Linked DNA regions of Homo sapiens. The protein of the gene in region 1 purifies or fractionates together with the protein of each later gene. This does not show direct contact. Each region holds a gene or a part of one and is shown on either strand. Other genes may lie near its edges. The genes, in order: IPCEF1 and CCDC92.

Region 1 (3,818 bases):
ATAAAGACACTCTCAACAATGAGACACATTTACAAAATGAAAATCAGGCTATTGTGAAATCTATAAAAGATTTTCTTTCATAAATGGAGTCTAGATAGTGATCCCAGATTATCATGACAATTTGGTTACTTGTTAGATATGGAACATCAGCGTCTATTTGGGGGGGATATTTATTTACCTCAGTTTGTATTGAAATAAAAGTTCAAATATTCTGAAAATGATGCAATGTGATGGAACTTTGATCCAAATATAAAATCTAAGGCTGCAATTTAAGTGTACAGCAAGTGGAAACTTCTCAATAAATGGATGTTAGATCATTTTAGTGGTTCATCTGTAATCGTTGATCACTTTGATCCATAAATTTAGGCTGGTACCTGCATAAGTACTTTAATGACAGCATAAATAGCCAGGATTTCAAGCATATTCTTGAGTTTCCCTGTGACATAAGAATCTCTTAAATCCCCTTTTCAGCAGAATTTGAATTACCCTAATTCCTATTACATGATTATCCCCAGCAGAACAACATTCTTTTAACAGGTAAATATCATTATAGGAAGCTAATACATTTAATCTATGTAAAACTAAAAATATCTTTTTTCTCCTCCTCTTAATTGATCCATATTTAATTTTCTTTAGACTTGTTAATTTTATATAATCTTTTTCTAACTATGCAGTAGAAATCTGTGACTGGATAGATTTTTTCAAATTTGGACAGGGTAGAAGTTCTTTTTTTCCTGACTATTGTGAAGGAAACTGCATTCTTCAGAGTTTTATGCACTGATCTGTAACGCCAGAGAGGAATAGAACATTTAACTACTTATAGGCAAATGTACATATATTAATAGAGACTGAACCTTAGTCTAAAACAGGAAAATAGGCCAGGCACAGTGGCTCATGCCTATAATCCCAGCACTTTGGGAGTCTGAGGTGTGAGGATCACTTGAAATCAGGAATTTGACCCAGCACTTTGGGAGGCTGAGGTGGAAAGATCACTTGAGCTCAGGAGTTTGAGAACAGCCCAAGCAACGTATAGCAAGACCTCGTCTGTACTAAAATAAATAAATAAATAAAATAAAATAAAATAAAATAAAATAAAATTAGTTAAGTGTGGTAGAGCATGCCTGTAGTCTCAGCTACTCAGGAGATGGAGGCAGGAGGATCACTTGAGCCTGGGAGATTGAGGTTGCAGTAGGCAATGATCGCACCACTGCATTCATTCCAGGGTGACTGAGAGTGACCCTGTCTCAATAATAATAATAATAATAATAATAAGATAAAATAATACAAACCTCTGAGAAAGGAAAAAAGATGAAACCAACTCAAAACATTTCCCAGGAACCTTAATTTAACATTATTCACTCCTAAAGAATATAATTCTTTGTAAAGTGTCACAGTTTATCCAGAGATAAGCTGTACTTTATACAAAGTTATGTTTGAAGGAGAAAACCTTTAATTATTTGAAAAACTAAGCAAACGGCTGTAAACATGAAAACCATGCATTTTAGGCTACTTGTTTATGATTATTCTGTTTGAATAGCTCAGACTACAGCACACTATTGGATAAATCTGTAATAGTTTTATGGACTGATGAGAATATATATAATCTCATCCATTTCTTGAACATGTTTGAAGATTCTACTATTCTAATAGATTAAATGGTTGTTGCAGGAACGTTGCTGTTTATTCGCTGGGAGTGCAAGTCATTTGTAACAACTTTGTTCTTTCCACCGATTAAAAGCCTGAAGCAAATGATATTAAAGACCTTATTTTCTGGTTCCTTGTTAAGGCACAAATCCCAACCTCTTTTTCCATCCTGACAAAAAATAGTCAAGCAGTTGTTCTTACTAGTGGTTGTGAATGCTGACCATATAATATGATAAGGACCCACTTACGAATATTCAACCTTCACCAAATACTTATTGAGTACCTAATATTTTCCACGTAATGTGCCAGGTATTTCACTGCAATTAAATGGACAAGATCACCTTTGAAATTCCCCTGGAATCGTGTGAATTAGTATTGCCTCTTGGTTAGACTCAGTTATAGCCAGTCTATCAAAGAGAAGTGCCTGAACTTGAACTCTCTTGGTCAAATACACTCACAGTTTTCCAGCTAGAGCTGGATTTTACTCTGGAACACAGCTACCAGAGTTTTCCACACTTGGATTTTCAACTTGATTAATCAACTAGAGCAGCTTTTGCGTAGGTAATGGGGACTTGAGGGAGGGACTGTGGAGCAAGGTTTGAGCCAGGCACTCGAGTACTATTCAGTTTTATTTTGTGAACACTCACAAACATTCCAAAGTTATGTACAAATTAGTTGCCTTGAGAGGAACGCTGGAGTCCCAGATATTCTGAGCTGAGAAGCCAGCACGGGGAGAGAGACACCGAGTCACCAAAACACAGTAAGTGGGCTGAGCAATGAAGGCTCAGCGACTCCTGATTGCCTTGAAGTGACTTTGCTTTCAAGTTGGCATTAGCTGTAGTCACAGGGTCCTAGACATGGGGTGTAGTAATTTCCACCGGGCATTGCATCCTCTTTGTGTTCTGTGCATTGGGAGCAAGTTAGCAAGCGATCCCTCTGTCAATCTCAATGGACTTCAGGCATTGAGCACCAAACCACTGTCCACTCCCCACGAGCTCACGTTTCCTATCATTGTGGAGGTGGCCTTTTGCCAATGGATGGATGCTCCTGGCCTATGAAATATTCTAGGCAATGCCTGGAACTTTCTGGGCAGTAGGAGCCACTGAGGTGAGCCTTAGAGCAAGGCAGAAAATAGAGTCCAAGAGGACCCCTTCTTTCTATAGGCTGGTGAAAAAGTAGTCTTTAATGGCAAAACCTGCAACTACTTTTGCACCAACCTGATAATTGCAGCTTTTCCAACAGGCCATGCAGGGCTTCCCCAGCCCCACTGGCTGTGTGGCACATGGAGGTAACATGTACTGTCCTCTTGCTGTCTGCAAGGGACGGTGTTAAAGGCTTTACATTCATTATCTAATTTTTTAATCAAATAGCTCTAGGAAGTGCTGTTATTATTAACTAGTTCCCTTTCTCTGATGAGAAAACACAGGTTCAGGGAACTTCAAACCTGGCTCAAGGTCACCCAGAAATAGTACAGTCAGGGTTCCAACCCCAGCAGTTTGACTCTGGGGTCAGAATTTGAGCCTAGGCTTATTTGACCTGAGCGTCCAGTATATAGCTGTCCTGAGGGAATATACTATAATATAAGGAAAAGGATGCTACATAATTTCTTATTTTTGGATAAGGTTGCTTTGTGCTTGTCCACCTTTCCATTCCTGGAGCTGAGAATGTGTATAATCCAACCCCAGAGAGGCCAGAGGAAGCCTGTTTGGGTGAATAATGATTTTAGGAGTGCTCAGCCCAGATTTGCCTGAGCCTTGAGGAAAATCTCATTCCCAAAGACACTTCCAGATCAAAGCTGAGGAGAATTGGGGTTGAGGGTGATGGAGCATTTGTTTCTAATAATATAGATTGAAAAGGGGAAGAAAACAGAGATTAAAAAATAGGAAGGCAGAGTTTTGAGAGGATATGCTTGGATAGGGATAGAGTCTGGCCACCCAAATCTTACGTTGAACTGTAATCCAAATTGTAATCCCCACGTGTTGGGGGAGGAAACTTGTGGGAGGTGATTAGACCATGGGGGCTGTTCCTCATGTTGTTCTCATGATAGTGAGTGAGTTCTCACAAGATCTGATGGTTTTATAAGAGGCTTTACCTTGCTTTGCTCTGCACTTCTCTCTCATGCTGCCATGTGAAGAAGGACATGTTTGCTTCCCGTTCCACCATGACTGTAAGTT
Region 2 (3,818 bases), on another chromosome or scaffold:
CTCTCTTCAGTAGTGAAGGATCGCAATGGAAAACACCACTGTCTTTTCAGCCGTGAAAACTCTTTTGCCCTCAGAAAGCCAGTGATATTGTTACTCTTTTGAGCTGATGAGAAAATAATTGAGTAATCTGGATGCCATTTGGAGATGTGTTTTGTTTCCCTGGCCCCAAGTGGACCTGCCTTATTCAGGAATATCCTAACAGCTGTAGAATGCCCTGCACAGATGGCGTCTCCATGTCAGGGCCTTTTCAGTCAGCACAGAGTGTGGAAGAAGGGGAGAGCGACAGTCAGTGAAATGCCCCAGGCCAGGAGACCCTTGTCCCCCACTGTGAGGGCTCCGAGTGGCTCACCAGCGCTCACTGTGGAGCTCTGCGCGTTACATGGTCACACTCTCCCTGCTCGCCTGCCGTTTCTTCTCCAGGCTGTCTGCCCATTATAATGGGACGCTTTAAGGACGCTTTTGTATTTCTGCAGTTAACAGAGTGGATTAATGACACACAGCGTTGTTATAATTCAAAGTTGCTGATTGACCAAGGCAGTTAGAGTATGAATACTTACTAAATCATATTTAAATTTGTTACAAATGAAATGTAATACCACACTATGATAGAGATGGCTGCTGATAACATTTGTACTCCATTCCCCTCTGCCCCCGTGGGAGAGCGTAGAAGAAAATACTGACATCTACATATAGGCACATCCCATTTTGTGCCATCATGGCGGGTGAGGTGGTCATCTCATTTCGGGATGTTTTAGTATATCCCGTTTTCTTTGAGCAAGGTGTGCCTGTAAAGGAAGTGTGTCCGGAATTGGTGGGTTCTTGGTCTCACTGACTTCAAGAATGAAGCCGCAGACCCTCGCCGTGAGTGTTACAGCTCTTAAGGTGGCGCATCTGGAGTTTGTTCCTTCTGATGTTCGGATGTGTTCGGAGTTTCTTCCTTCTGGTGGGTTCGCGGTCTCACTGGCTCAGGAGTGAAGCTGCAGACCTTCGCAGTGAGTGTTACAGCTCATAAAAGCAGCGTGGACACAAAGAGTGAGCAGTAGCAAGATTTATTGCAAAGAGCGAAAGAACAAAGCTTCCACAGTGTGGAAGGGGACCCGAGCGGGTTGCCACTGCTGGCTCGGGCAGCCTGCTTTTATTTTCTTATCTGGCCCCACCCACATCCTGCTAATTGGTAGAGCCCAGTGGCCTGTTTTGACAGGGTGCTGATTGGTGTGTTTACAATCCCTGAGCTAGACACAAAGGTTCACCACCTCCCCATCAGATTAGTTAGATACAGAGTATCCACACAAAGGTTCTCCAAGGCCCCACCAGAGTAGCTAGATACAGAGTGTCGATTGGTGCATTCACAAACCCTGAGCTAGACACAGGGTGCTGATTGGTGTGTTTACAAACCTTGAGCTAGATACAGAGTGCCAATTGGTGTATTTACAATCCCTGAGCTAGACATAAAGGTTCCCCACGTCCCCACCAGACTCAGGAGCCCGGCTGGCTTCACCCAGTGGATCCCACACCGGGGCTGCAGGTGGAGCTGCCTGCCAGTCCCGCGCCGTACGTTTGCACTCCTCAGCCCTTGGGTGGTCGATGGGATTGGGCACCATGGAGCAGGGAGCGGCACTGGTCGGGGAGGCTCGGGCAGCACAGGAGCCCATGGAGTGGGTGGGAGGCTCAGGCATGGCAGGCTGCAGGTCCCGAGCCCTGCCCTGCGGGAAGGCAGCTAAGGCCTGGTGAGAAATTGAGTGCAGCGCTGGTGGGCTGGCACTGCTAGGGGACCCAGTACACCCTCTGCAGCTGCTGGCCTGGGTGCTAAGCCCCTCATTGCCCGGGGCCGGCAGGGCTGGCAGGGCCGGCCCGCTGGCTGCTCTGAGTGCGGGGCCCGCCAAGCCCACGCCCACCCAGAACTCCAGCTGGCCTGCAAGCGCCGCCGCACGCAGCCCCGGTTCTGCTTGCGCCTCTCCCTCCACACCTCCCTGCAAGCTGAGGGAGCGGGCTCCGGCCTTGGCCAGCCCAGAAAGGGGCTCCCACAGTGCAGCGGTGGGCTGAAGGGCTCCTCAAGTGCCGCCAAAGTGGGAGCCCAGGCAGAGGAGGTGCTGAGAGCAAGCGAGGGCTGTGAGGACTGCCAGCAGGCTGTCACTTCTCAGAAGCACCTAAATAGGAAGCCCATGGAAACAAAAGCTTTTCAACCCTGAAGCCCTTACATTCCTCTGGCACCACAGCTGCACTCAACAGACTGGCACCAGGCCCATTCGTGGGCCTCCAGGGTGCCAGGCACTGTGCTAGGGCTTAGGGTGCAGCAGTGAACAATCTGGAGTCTGTGCGAGGAGGCGGGAAACAGACCCACACTTACAGACCCTCACAGAGACACAAAGACTAGAACTGGGGACAGGGTGGTAATGCACCCGAGTCTGGGGGCCAGGGCTTCCGGGAGGAAGTAAACTTGTACTGAGACCTAAAGGATAAGTAGACAGTGGAGACCCAGGAGAGGTGGGTGGGAGAGAGGCCTAAGAAGAGTGTTCTGGGCAGAGGAGGAGCCATGAGAGGGCACCAGGGTGGGAGAAGCACAGCCCAGCAGGGCACCCGGAGGAAAGCTCGTGCCACCTGGAGCCCTGGGGGTAGGAGAAGGGCCAGCGAGGGTGGCGGGGCCAGTTGCAGGGCCGGGCAGACCAGTCTGATTCTCAGAGCAGTGGGAACCATTGGAGGTTTTTAAGTAGTCTCAATTTAAAAACAAGATCACTCTGCTGCCACGTGGAGAGCAGAATGGAGCAGGTAGGAGAGGACAGAGGGAGGCTTTCTGGCAGGGATTTGGGTGAGGGTGAGGACGGCCTCAGCAGCGGAGACGGGGAGAGTTGAACGGATCTGAGAGCTGCTTTCAAAGCAGGATGCCAGCAAGATCATCATGGACTGGAAATGGATGGCGGGGGATGCCAGCGTCAAGGCCACCCCCAGGTTGTGCAGCTGGGGACAGTGCTTGTGAGGGGTAGGACACTAGGCCTAGGGCAGCTCTCCTGTCATCCAAGACCCACTAAATTCTGGATCACATTTAAATGGTTCTTTCTCTTTGACAGCAAGCCACTAACATATGGGCTCTGCTTCTTCCATCAGCCAACAGAATCCTGGATTTGAGTCTGTCCTTTGAAAGCATCTCTGCTAGAGTTCCCACTTCCAAACCCCTTTCAGCTCTTCGGGATTCAGCCTCCAGGTGAGGTGCTGGAATTGATGCCAGAGTGAACGACTCCGGATTGCTGAGTGGAAGGAAAACGTAGGCACCGCTACTGACAGCTCTCAGGCGCTCCTGGGATTTTCCTTCCTTTGACGCTGAGGCTGTTCCGCTTTCAAGCGTTCTGCTTTGTGAGGGAAGGGCAAGGTCAGAAGGTGCTCACCCTTTCCACAGCAAGCACGCGGCACACGTGTGCCACACGCTGAACCTGCCTTGGTTGTAGCTGGCTCCTTTGTTAAGGTCAGCGCCCCCCAAGACCACGTGCTGTGCAGACAGTGTTGGGATCTCGGGAACTGTGGGGTTCCACTTAGAAACTAGTGTCTGGCCCAGCAGCCTACACAGGAGAGTTTGCGGTTACAGCACAGAGACGGTTTCGGGGACAGAAACATCCTTTCTCACTCCTGCCGGAATGCTGCTCACGGCTCCACTGAGGAAAGCCCTGCTTGATGGAAACTCAACTCTGCCATCATCTGCAGCCCAGTGCGACGGCAGTCAAAGGCCAGGGAGAGCTATGCTTTGTTTTATAGAAACATGCCTAGAAATGGTCGCCTTAAGTTATTTAACCCACTCCCTATTGTCGGGTTTTGAGTTTGTTTCTAGT

What was found.
Region 2: the proteins of IPCEF1 (region 1) and CCDC92 purify together in Homo sapiens (affinity purification with mass spectrometry; one large-scale study listed by BioGRID and IntAct). This does not show direct contact.

The regions. Positions count from the first base shown.
Region 1 is NC_000006.12:154,346,638-154,350,455, reverse strand, and holds part of IPCEF1 (interactor protein for cytohesin exchange factors 1), read left to right. Parts: intron 1-3,818. UniProt on the Homo sapiens protein: Enhances the promotion of guanine-nucleotide exchange by PSCD2 on ARF6 in a concentration-dependent manner.
Region 2 is NC_000012.12:123,945,085-123,948,902, reverse strand, and holds part of CCDC92 (coiled-coil domain-containing protein 92), read left to right. Parts: exon of another isoform or gene 1-3,199; intron 3,200-3,818.